Regions from separate parts of the Homo sapiens genome. Here region 2 is linked to region 1. Evidence: fine-mapped expression QTL. A gene starts in region 1. The other region holds a variant in brackets. All regions are shown on one strand. Distances are from middle to middle. Region 1 holds the start of CHKA (choline kinase alpha). Region 2 has its middle 22 kb from the start of CHKA-DT.

What was found. PIP is the estimated chance that this variant, and not a neighbour inherited with it, causes the effect. A credible set is the group of variants that fine-mapping cannot tell apart.
Region 2: its variant is the best candidate, but not a certain one, in a credible set for the expression of CHKA in whole blood (INTERVAL, PIP 0.65).

Annotation. Positions count from the first base shown.
Region 1 is chr11:68,118,548-68,123,894 of GRCh38, forward strand. CHKA (choline kinase alpha) reads right to left here and starts at 2,841. Exons shown (of 12, transcript NM_001277.3): 1 at 2,281-2,841. The coding sequence starts at 2,630. CHKA-DT (CHKA divergent transcript) reads left to right here and starts at 3,341. Exons shown (of 4, transcript NR_183630.1): 1 at 3,341-3,656. RefSeq lists enhancers at 349-538, 624-1,140, 1,566-1,695, 1,836-1,965, 2,814-3,579 and 1 more and silencers at 2,116-2,245, 2,816-3,245, 3,596-3,695.
Region 2 is chr11:68,141,081-68,146,444 of GRCh38, forward strand. No RefSeq gene overlaps it. Among named protein-coding and RNA genes, the nearest start is that of CHKA-DT, 22 kb to the left of the region's middle. The variant G/T (reference allele first, on the strand shown) is at 2,236.

The sequences.
Region 1 (5,347 bases):
GACGAATTCCTCTCCTTCTCCGCACCTCCAAATGCCCTTGTGTCTTTTTTAAAAGCTAGACATCACCCACTTTCCCATGTCCTAAATCACCTTTTTTTCTCCTTATTAAACTTATTCCATAACTACGTTCTCTTTCAGAACACAGGACTGAGAGAGTGTACTCTTGCAACATTATGTAAAAAGGTCATCCAATCCAAAAGGAAAGCTGTGTTTTCCAAGACTGCTAACTCCTGGAGAAAAGAAACAAGACATCCTCAATGCTTTCCTAATAACTGGTTTGAGCAAAATGCAAAAGTTTAACTGCTGAGTGACTCTCCCTGGAGAAAGCCATGAAAATATCTTAAGGCTGGATCTAGGGTGTCCAAACATTTTCACAGGCCGCAGGCTAGAGCACTGGTGCAGGAGAAGGGGACACCAGAGACCTGGCAGTTCAGGCTTTGAAGGCAGTAAACAGCCACTGACCTCAGGCAAGTCACTTCTCCTTTAGGTTTTCCATTTCACAGACTGATGAGTACATGGCCTAAAATGATCGCCCTTCTAGTTGAGAATTTTCAGGCCTAACTAAAAGTAGATTAAAGTAAACCTTGGAGAGAGCTGAATTTTTTTTAAGTGCCATTAAGCAATTCAGGGATTATCTAAACAGCCTCGGTTTTCTTTTCTCTGCTTCCTTACCAACTGCCTATTAACTCTCACTCTTAGCTCATAAGCAGTCAGAGGGGCTGAAGCACAAAGAGGAAGTGAAGCTCAAAGAGTTAATTTTGCTGCATTAGCGGCTCTGGTGAAAGACAGTGGGCACAGAAAAGGAATCAAATGACCAAAACTGGACTTGGGGATTACTGGTGGCAGCCAGCCAGCAAATTTCTAGATACTGCACACAACCTGTCAGCCAATTAAAAGAAAATTGGCAGAAAATGACGGAACACGTTCTTTGTTTTTGTTTTTTTGAGACAGTCTCTCTCTGTCAAAGGCTGGAGTGCAGTGGCGTGATCTCGGCTCACTGCAACCGCCGCCTCCCAGGTTCAAGCGATTCTCCTGCCTCAGCCTCCCAAGTAGCTGGGACTACAGGTGTGCGCCACCATGCCCAGCTAATTTTTGTATTTTTAGTAGATATGGGGTTTCACCATGTTGGCCAGGCTGGTCTCGATCTCCCGACCTCGTGACCCGCCCACCTTGGCCTCCCAAAGTGCTGGGATTACAGGCGTGAGCCACTGCGCCCGGCCCGGGAACACATCTTTAAAGGTCTCAATAGAAGGATGCACACACTACGTTGAATGGTTATGTCTTCGGAGCAGAGTGGTGAAAGAAGGTCAGACTTCTGTTAAGTCTGAATACCTACACGCGTACTTCTGTAATTCAAATTTAAGATTAAATATTTTCAAGTTTAAAAAAAGGAAAAAATGGCCGAGCGCGGTGGCTCATGCCTGTAATCCCAACATTTTGGGAGGTCGAAGCGGGTGGATCACCTGAGGTCGGGAGTTCAAGATCAGCCTAACGAACATGGAGAAACCTTGTCTCTACTAAAAATACAAAATTAGCCGGGCGTGGTGGCGTGTGTCTGTAATCCCAGCTACTCGGGAGGCTGAGGCAAGGAGAATCGCTTGAACACGGGAGGCCGTGGTTGCAGTGAGCCGAGGTCGCGCCACTGCACTCCAGCCTGGGGACCAAGAGCGAAACTCCGTCTCAAAAAAAAAAAAAAAAGGAAAAAACATTTCTACCTTACTCTTATTTTAGGAGCCACGCCTCCCACCTTTGTCTAGTAACACAGCTATAGTGATGTCTCTTAGGGGATGAGAAAATGCTACTCCTCCACTAACAATGACTCTTGGAGAGGGAACAAGACATCAAATCGCGAACTCGAAAAACTAACAGAAAAAAGTTAAAAAGTGGTTTGTGTTTTTAAAGCCAGCCACAACACCTTCATTCAAGGCCCTAAACCGCAGAGACTTTCTAGACCTATCTTAAGCGTCAGTACCACACGCACTTCGTGATGGAACGGTATTGTTCTCCTAGAACAGACCCGTTTTCTCATGAAACCGACGTTTTTACAAAAGCCTGTTTGTGGACGGCCTGCGGCGGCCGCGAACCCGCTTCCCTTGGATTACCCAGGGCTGGGAGAAGGAGGGCTTTCGCCGGCTGCGGTCCCCGGTCCCCGGCCTCCGCCCCGGCCCCGGCTCCCCCGGCCCCCGACCCCCCCGGCCCACGCCCCCTGCCCGGACCCCGCCCCGGCCCCGCCCCGCGTCACCTGACTGTCCCGCGGCCCCCAGACCCGGCGCCACCGACCTGATGACACTGATGTGGAACTCGTCCTCGCGGAGGCCCCGCCAGGCGCCGGGCAGGAACTCCTTGCACCACAGATAGGCCCTGCGCCGCGTCCGGGGCTCCGGCTGCTCGTCTGCGGGCGGCTGCGGCGGCGGGGGCTGGGGCAGCGGCAGCGGCAGCGGCAGCGGCGGCGGAGGGGGCAGCGCGAGCGGCGGCTGTTGGCCGCCCAGCTGCTTGGACTCGAGGTCGCTGGCGGCGTCGCGCTGCTGCCCCACGCCGGGCGCCGGGGCCGCGCTGCCGCTACCGCAGCTCAGCAGCAGCCCGAGCGGCGAGGGCTCCGCCTCGCCCCCGGTGCAGAATTTGGTTTTCATGCCCGACAGGCGGCCGAGGAGGCGCGGGCGGCCGCAGCGCGAGAGGACTAGGCTCAGAGTCCGGCCGGGCGCCCCCTCGCCGCTCTCTCACTGGCAGGCCGGCGGGGCAGGGGGCCGCGGCGGTTGGGCGCGCGGGGCGGCGGCGGCGGCTGCGGCGACTGCGGCGACTGTGGAGCGGGGATGTGCTGCTGGCCGCTGCACTCGCTCCTCTGCCGCCGCCGCACGAGGAGCGCCGGCCGCGTCACAGCCCGCCCTCGCGCTCGCCACTGATTGGCCGCCGTCCGCCGGCCCGGCGCATCATAACCGCCGCCGCCCTCGCCACACCGCCTCCCCATTGGCTGCGGCGCCGCCCCCAACCCAGAGCGCTGCGGCCTCCGTGAGCGGGGCCTGGGCGAAGGGGGCGGGGCGTCGAGGGGGCGCCCCGGCGGTCGCAGGGAAGGGGGAGAGGGGAGCGAGGCGCGGGGGGCGCCGGGAGAGCGCCTCCGCGGTGGGACGGAGCCGGACTGGGCCGAGCGAGGGAGGCTCCTGAGCCTCGGAGGACCCCGGGGTTGGCTTTGGGAGCTGAAAGTTTCCTTGGACCCCTCGGAAGCCCCGTGACATCAGAGGCCGGGCCTGGCAGGGGCAGGCAGGAAACGTGTCTGGAGGCTACTGCCCTCTCCGCGTGACCTTGGGCGAGCAGCCTCCTCCTGGGGCTCAGTGGGTGTGATTTTGTAACATTTCCCAGCGCTGCCACAGGCGCGTCTCGCCCTGTCCAACGCGGAGCCCGAAGAATTACTAAGAAACCGAGGTCTGAAGGAGGGAAGAGGTGACGGGCTCGAGGCCACACGGTGGGCCAGGCTGGGCCCGGCTGCACGCCGGCTACCGGGGCCCAGCCCTCTGCACGCCTCCCGCAGCCTCAGTTTCCCTGTCCGTGGTACTGAGGATGCTCGGGCCTAGAAGTTCAGGGCTGGAGGCCCAGGGACCGTCGAGGGAGGGGCATCATCCCCGCCATGGGGCCGCCGCAACTGCCCAGAGCACAGGCCAAAGGTGCGTGCCACGGGGCTACTGGCGTTGTGGACGCTGCCCCTGCCTCCCCATCCCCCGCAGGAAACAGCCTTGTGACCGTGACTAACGCACCTTTGCCGGGGTAGAGGGGCAAGGGCCCCTGCTACCGTTTGCCACACACTGCCCCATGTCCCTCACTGCTCCCGTCCTTCCTAGAAGTGAGGTGCTGATACATATAAAAATTATGGATCCCATTTTATGGGACATGAGCTGAAACAGGAGGTTTCCTGGGCTGCCAGGGGCTTAGGAAATCCAGTGCCTGATACACAGGAAATGCTTCTATGTGGGGAGTTCACAGTCTTCCAGAAGCAAAAATGTTTTTTGGTTTTTTTTTTGAGACGGAGTCTTGCTCAGTCGCCCAGGCTGGAGTGCAGTGGCACGATCTCGGCTCACTGCAACCTCCGCCTCCCGGGTTCACGCCATTCTGCTGCCTCAGCCTCCCGAGTAGCTAGGACTACAGACGCCCGCCACGACGCCTGGCTAATTTTTTTTTTTTTTTTTTTTTTTTTTTTGTATTTTTAGTAGAGACGGGGTTTCATCGTGTTAGCCAGGATGGTCTCGATCTCCTGACCTCGTGATCCGCCCGCCTCGGCCTCCCAAAGTGCTGGGATTACAGGAGTGAGCCACCGCGCCCGGCCGCAAAAATCTTTTAGAGTGTGTACTTGGCTGAACTTGCTCCACGCAAAATGGTCTTATTTAAGGATAAAAATGAAAGGGGACTTTTGTAAGGCTGCTGTGGCGACAGGCCTGGAAGTTGACCTGCAGGGAGGTAGGAGAGACCAAGGCCCCTGGGACGGAGGCCGGCCACTGGATGTTTGAAAGGCTGAGAAGCCAAGGGCTTCAATCTGGGGAGGCCGTTTGGATAAAGGAGCCAAGGACTTTCTCTAAAAATACCGGCTCACAGGGAGGTGGGGCCATGCCAATGGCCTGCCCAGGTGACAAGCCCTTTGTCCCACTGTCCCCTGGCACCAGTCTGGTAATCTCAAAGGAATGCCAGAAATCTGGCCAGGAGGAAGGGACACTAAAGTAAGGAGTGGCCCTCTATAATTTGAAATAACTCTTTCTGGCATCTGCTGGCTTTTGTTAGGAAAAGCCTCAGACATTTTTATGGGATCACAGTTCCCTGTGGGAGGAAGAGGTTGCCTCAAGGCCAGGCATGGTGGCTTATGGCTGTAATCCCAGCACTTTGGGAGGCCAAGGCAGGAGGATCACTTGAGCCAGGAGTTTGAGACCAGCCTGGCCAACATAACAAGACTCTGTCTCGCCGGGCGAGGTGGCTCATGCCTGTAACCCCAGCACTTTGGGAGGCCGAGGTGGGCGGATCACAAGGTCAGGAGTTCGAGACCATTCCGGCTAACACGGTGAAACCCCATCTCTACTAAAAATACAAAAAAAATTAGCCGGGCGTAGGTGGTGCATGCCTGTAGTCCCAGCTACTCGGGAGGCTGAGGCAGGAGAATGGCATAAAACCCAGGAAGCGGAGGTTGCAGTGAGCCGAGATCGCGCCACTGCACTACAGACTGGGAGACAGAGCGAGACTCCGTCTCAAAAAAAAAAAAAGACTGTCTCAAAAATTAAAAATGAAAAAAAAAATTAACAGAGCATTGTGTCTTACACTTGTCCGACTACTTGGGAGGCTCAGCCAGGAGCATCACTTGAGCCTGGGAGGTCAA
Region 2 (5,364 bases), 23 kb after region 1:
GGAGGCAGGCACAGAGCAATTTGGCAACCTGCCCAGGACCACACGCATGAGGAGCAGGAGGCGGCATTGCATTGGGGGCACCTGTGTGCCAGGTCAGTGCAGGGCACTTTGCAGTCCTCTTAGGGCTGAGGGCCTTGGACACTCAGCACCATTTTCCCTGCTCTGTGGCTGCAGGGGGCTGCAGGGGCTGGAAGCCTGACAGCCACGTTTCCTTGAAGCCCCTGCAGCAGGGTTCTGGGTTACAGCCTGTCAGTCACGGGCATTTGCCTGACACCTGGAAGGCTGTGGGGAGGTGCAGTGGCAGGCAGGGGTGGGCTTTGCCAGATGTGACACTTTGCCAGTGACTTCTGGGGGTCTCCTGGGGCTGACCAGCCCCCCTCCGAGTGGTGCATGCTCCTGCAATTCCTCCAGTCCTAGTTTCTTTTCTTTCTTTTTCTTAAGACAGGGTCTCTTTCTGTCACCCAGGCTGGAGTGCAGTGGTGCAATCATGGCTCATTGCAGCCTTGACCTCCCAGGCTCAAGCAGTCCTCCTGCCCCAGCCTCTTGAGTAGCTGGGACCACAGGCGTGCACCACCATGCCAGGCTACAAATCCTAACTTCTGGACCAGGTGTGGCTGCCCCTCAGCTCTTTGGAAGGTTTTGCAAGCCTCAAATTCCCCGTGTTCAGTCCTTTCCTGCTTGAAATGCCATTTTCCCAACTGAACCTTGATGAGGCAGAGGTGTTAAGGCAAAGCAGCTGGGCCTATAGGCCTGAGCTCTAGAGGCTGGGGAATGGAGGAACAAGGCTCTGGTCCCCGCGCTCAACAAGACCCCCTCAATGGGGAATTCCACATTGCAGAAGGGACACCAGGTGTGGGGCAGCTCAACAAGCAGCCAGGGCCTCCTACCCCAAGAAATGTCCTTCTAGGATAATAGCCAGCATTTGCCAAGCACTCACCGGTGCCAAGCCCCTGTGCCAAGCACTCACCGGGTGCCAGGCCCCAGGAGGCTGAGGCAGGACTGGCTTTAGAACAGGAAAGCTGGGGGTGCGAGCCCGGCTCTGCCAGTTCTGTGGGTTTGTGGTTTTTTGGTCGCTTCATGTGCCTGAGTCTCATTTTCCTGTTTCCTCATTTGGAACAGGCAGTGGTGGCGTCTCTCATGGGGACGTGGAGATAAACCAGGGCGACATCGGGGACACACAAGCCCAGTGCCTGCGGCGATGGCCGATGAGGCGCTCTTTCCATTTCCTGGTAGCAGATGAGGAAAGTGAGGCTCAAAGAGGTGATGTCATTTGCCCCAAATCACACAGTTGGGAGGTGGTGGGGTGCGAATTCAAACCCAGGAGTGTGAAGCTTCCAGCTCGTCTGTTTCTCCCTGGCTGTGGGTCAGTGCCCTGTGGGAGGCCAGGATGCCGGTCAGGGACTGGCATGGCAGGGTGAGGGGAGCAGGGTGGGCCAGCCTGCCTCCCCTCCCTCTCCTGGGGCTGCTGCCCTGTGGAGTAGGGGACTGCCATGGCCCTCACCTGTCCACCTTGTCTCCTTGCCTGGGCCTTGTCAGCCCTGTGCACTCCACAGGGCAGGGACAGGGCCTGCTGTTGACAGAAGTTCAGAACAAGGCAGTGCTTGGCCCTGGGTCCTGCGCAGATCAGTGCTGGGGCTGGCCTGGGGCCCGAGCTCAAGCCTCCGAATCCCCTTGCCCAGGCTGGACTCTTGCTGCACCGGGGCAGGTTGGCAGAGGCCTGGAGGTTTTCTCTGGGCTGCAGGTTGAGGCACCTGGGCTTGCAGACGCACGTCTGGCGGTCCAGCTTCCTCCCTGGCAGCCTCTCTCCTGCGACAGCAATATGGTGGTCTGCAGCTTCAGGCCAGCTCCATTGCTGCCCATGAGGCTACCCCAGTGGAGAGAGGTCACCTTGCCTCAGGGTCCCAGCTGAAGTCCCCAGGCTGCATCTCATTGGCCAGGCTTGGTGATATGTTCATCCCTGACCAGTCGCAGTGCCCGGGGGGTGCGCCCTCTCATAGGCCAGCCATGGAGTAGGCTGGGGTCAGAAAAGGCCTCTCCTCCCTGAGCCACATGAACTGAGAATGGGGAGGTGACCTTTCCAAAGAGGGGGTAATGGACTCTAGGAGTCAGAAGTAGTGAATGACCCGGACGGGGAAACGCAGGCCCCACTGTCGCCAGCCCTGCTGATGGTGGCCATCCTTTCTTCCTCACCTTGGCAGCAGGAGCTGGATGGAGTCTGGGGAGGTGGCAGGTACA[G/T]GCTGGAGCTCAGAGTGTGAGAGACAGTTGAGGATGGAATGTTCTCTTGGAGAAGCGAGAATAATGTCTCCTCCCCTTCTCCAAACAGCAAGTGCCCGGCCCAGCCTCTGTCTCAGGAAACTCTCTAACAGCCAAGATCAGGGCCTTATGGAGAGCTGACCCAAGGCCAGGCACTATGTTGGACACATCTGATGAGTCACTTCACTTCAGCCTTGCCAAAGCTTCATGAGCACCCATTTCACAGATGAAGAAACGGAGGCTCAGAAAGACAAACGTTTCAGCCAATAAGTGGCTGAATCTATGCTCAAACCTAGGTCTGTGTGATCCCAGACCCTGAATTCTACAAGTCCACCAAAAACTCCTCTTTATCTTCTTTTATTTTTTATGTATTTATTTATTTTTAGACAGAGTCTCACTCTGTCGCTCAGGCTGGAGTGCAGTGGCGCGATCTCGGCTCCTCTCCGCCCCATGGGTTCAAGTGATTCTCTTGCCTCAGCCTCCCTAGTAGCTGGGACTAAAGACGCACGCCACCACACCCCGCTAATTTTTGTATTTTTAGTAGAGACGGGGTTTCACCATGTTGGCCAGGAGGTCTCACTCTCCTGACCTCGTGATCCACCCACCTCGGCCTCTCAAAGTGTTGGGAATACAGGCGTGAGCCACCGCACCAGCCTATCTTCTTTTAAAAACATCATCAGTCCACCCTGGGTAATATGGCAAAATCCCATCTCTACAGAAAATACAAAAATTACCCAGGCATGGTGGCACATGCCTGTGGTCCCAGCTTCTTGGGAAGCTGAGGTGGGACGATCACCTGAGCCCTGGAGGTTGAGGCTCCAATGAGCCATGGTCATGCCACTGCACCCCAGCCTAGGCAACAGAATGAGACCCTGACTCACGATACATAAATAACTAAAAATAGCCAGGCGGGCTGGGCGCGGTGGCTCATGCCTGTAATCCCAGCACTCTGGGAGGCCGAGGCAGGCAGATCACGAGGTCAGGAGATCGAGACCACCCTGGCTAACACGGTGAAACCCCGTCTCTACTAAAAATACAAAAAAATTAGCCAGGCGTGGTGACGGGCGCCTGTAGTCCCAGCCATTTGGGAGGCTGAGGCAGGAGAATGGCGTGAACCCGGGAGGCAGAGCTTGCAGTGAGCCAAGATTGTACCACTGCACTCCAGCCTGGGCGACAGAGAAAGACTCCGTCTCAAAAAAAAAAAAAATAAAATAAAATAAAATAAAATAAAAACACATAAAACATCATCAGTGTCTTGTTAAAGTAGTGCTGTTCTAGTTGTAAACGAGTTAGTGTGAGGTTGTGGGCCATGTCTGAGGCCTCAGCTCTCAGCCCAGGAAATAAGGCTGTTGTGAGTGAGTAAGGTGGGGGTGAAGGATGTGGGAGGGGGGCTCTACTTCCAAAGTTGCTGAGGCAGTGTTGAAGGCCGCAGGACACTTCCTCACCACTGTGGCCCAACTCTTCTTTCTCCCTCAAAACCCAGCTCGAAGGACACTTCCTCCCAGAAGTCTTCTCTGCTGTGCCTATAACCCTCCCCTGACCCCAGGAAGACACACACACACACACACACACACACACAACTTCTCTGTGTACTCCATCCCCTACGTTGTACTCATCAAAGCCCCAACCATAGTGTGTGTGTGTGGTGTGTATGGTGTGTATGGTGTGTATGGTGTGTGTGTGTGTGTGTGTGTGTGTGTGTGTGTCTGTCTGTCTGTCTCCTCGGTCAGACTGGGACAACCTGAGGGCAAGGAGAGGGAATTCCCTGATGCCCAAGGTGTGCCCCGTGTAGATCATGGTACAGAGTGGAGGCTCAGCAAACAGAGCATAAATGAATGAGTGAGTGAATGAATGCATGGAATCTTGGGGTGAGTTTCCCTGAAGACAGCCCCAGGGTGCTGTGGCTGTAGGAGCTGGACCGTCTAGTGCCTTGGTCTGGGGGTGGCTGAAGCTGGAGGAGGGAAAGAGGCCAGTCCTTTGCAGCTTCTGGAGGCCAGAGTCCAAGGTCAGCTTCTCTCAACAGGACCCCTCTGAACCCGGCTGACACCACGGCCTTTGGAAGCCATGTGGTCAGTAACACGCTGTCACCCTTACTGCAGTCTGTTCACCTGACCTAATGACTGGGAACCTCAGGTCTGTGACTCAATGCCCAGAATGCTGTCTGGTATGGGGGTATGGGTCACACCTGGCTCATCTCCAGGACAGCCCTGTTCTGCGTGTCTGCCAGCCAAGGGGTCACGTGCTAACCTGGCTGCCCCACTGGGGGTGGGAGGGGCAGCTTCAGGATGGGGCCGCATCAGGCCCCATCTCCCTACCAGGCCCGTCAGTGGGCACCCTGAGCCTCTCTCTCTCATTCCTTCTTTTGAGCCTGCAGCACTACTCCCCGACCAAAGCACACTTTCCCTTCTCGTCTGGAGGAGAGATGGGGCCTCGTGCCAGCTCTGCCCCTGCCTGACACACACGCTTGGCCCGTCACTGAGCCTCAGTTTCCCTCTCTGTATTTCTTGGCTGTGCAAAGGCAGTCGGGGGAGGCTGGCCCTTTAAGCTGGATGAGGCTGGTATTTTGTGTTTTTTTTTGAGACGAAGTCTCACTCTGTCACCCAGGCTGGAGTGCAATGGCGCGATCTTGGCTCACTGCAACCTCCGCCTCCTGGGTTCAAGTGATTCTCCTGCCTCAGCCTCCCAAGTAGCTGGGATTACAGGTGCCCACCACCACACTCAGCAAATTTTTTGTATTTTTAGTAGAGACGGGGTTTTGCCATGTTGGGCAGGCTGGTCTTGAACTCCTGACCTCAGGTGATCCGCCCGCCTTGGGAGGCTGGGTTTTTGAGCTTTGTGCTGTTGGGGCCCAGCCCTCAGGGCCGCGTGGGAACCCCCGGGGCGGGGTGTTCTATACCAGGAAGTAGGCAGAGGGCCAGCCCGAGGACAGTTCGTTTCTTGCCAGTCCCCTGACCTCTCTTGGCACACAGCCTGTGGCAGCAGCAGGTTGAAGCCAGACGCTGCTCAGACCTCACACCACGTCGTTTGCCCAACCCAGAGAAAGCTCTGTCCCCGGCTTCTGGCTCCTTCTCTGCCAGGACTCACTGGGTGTGATGAGTTGGTCTTGGGGCA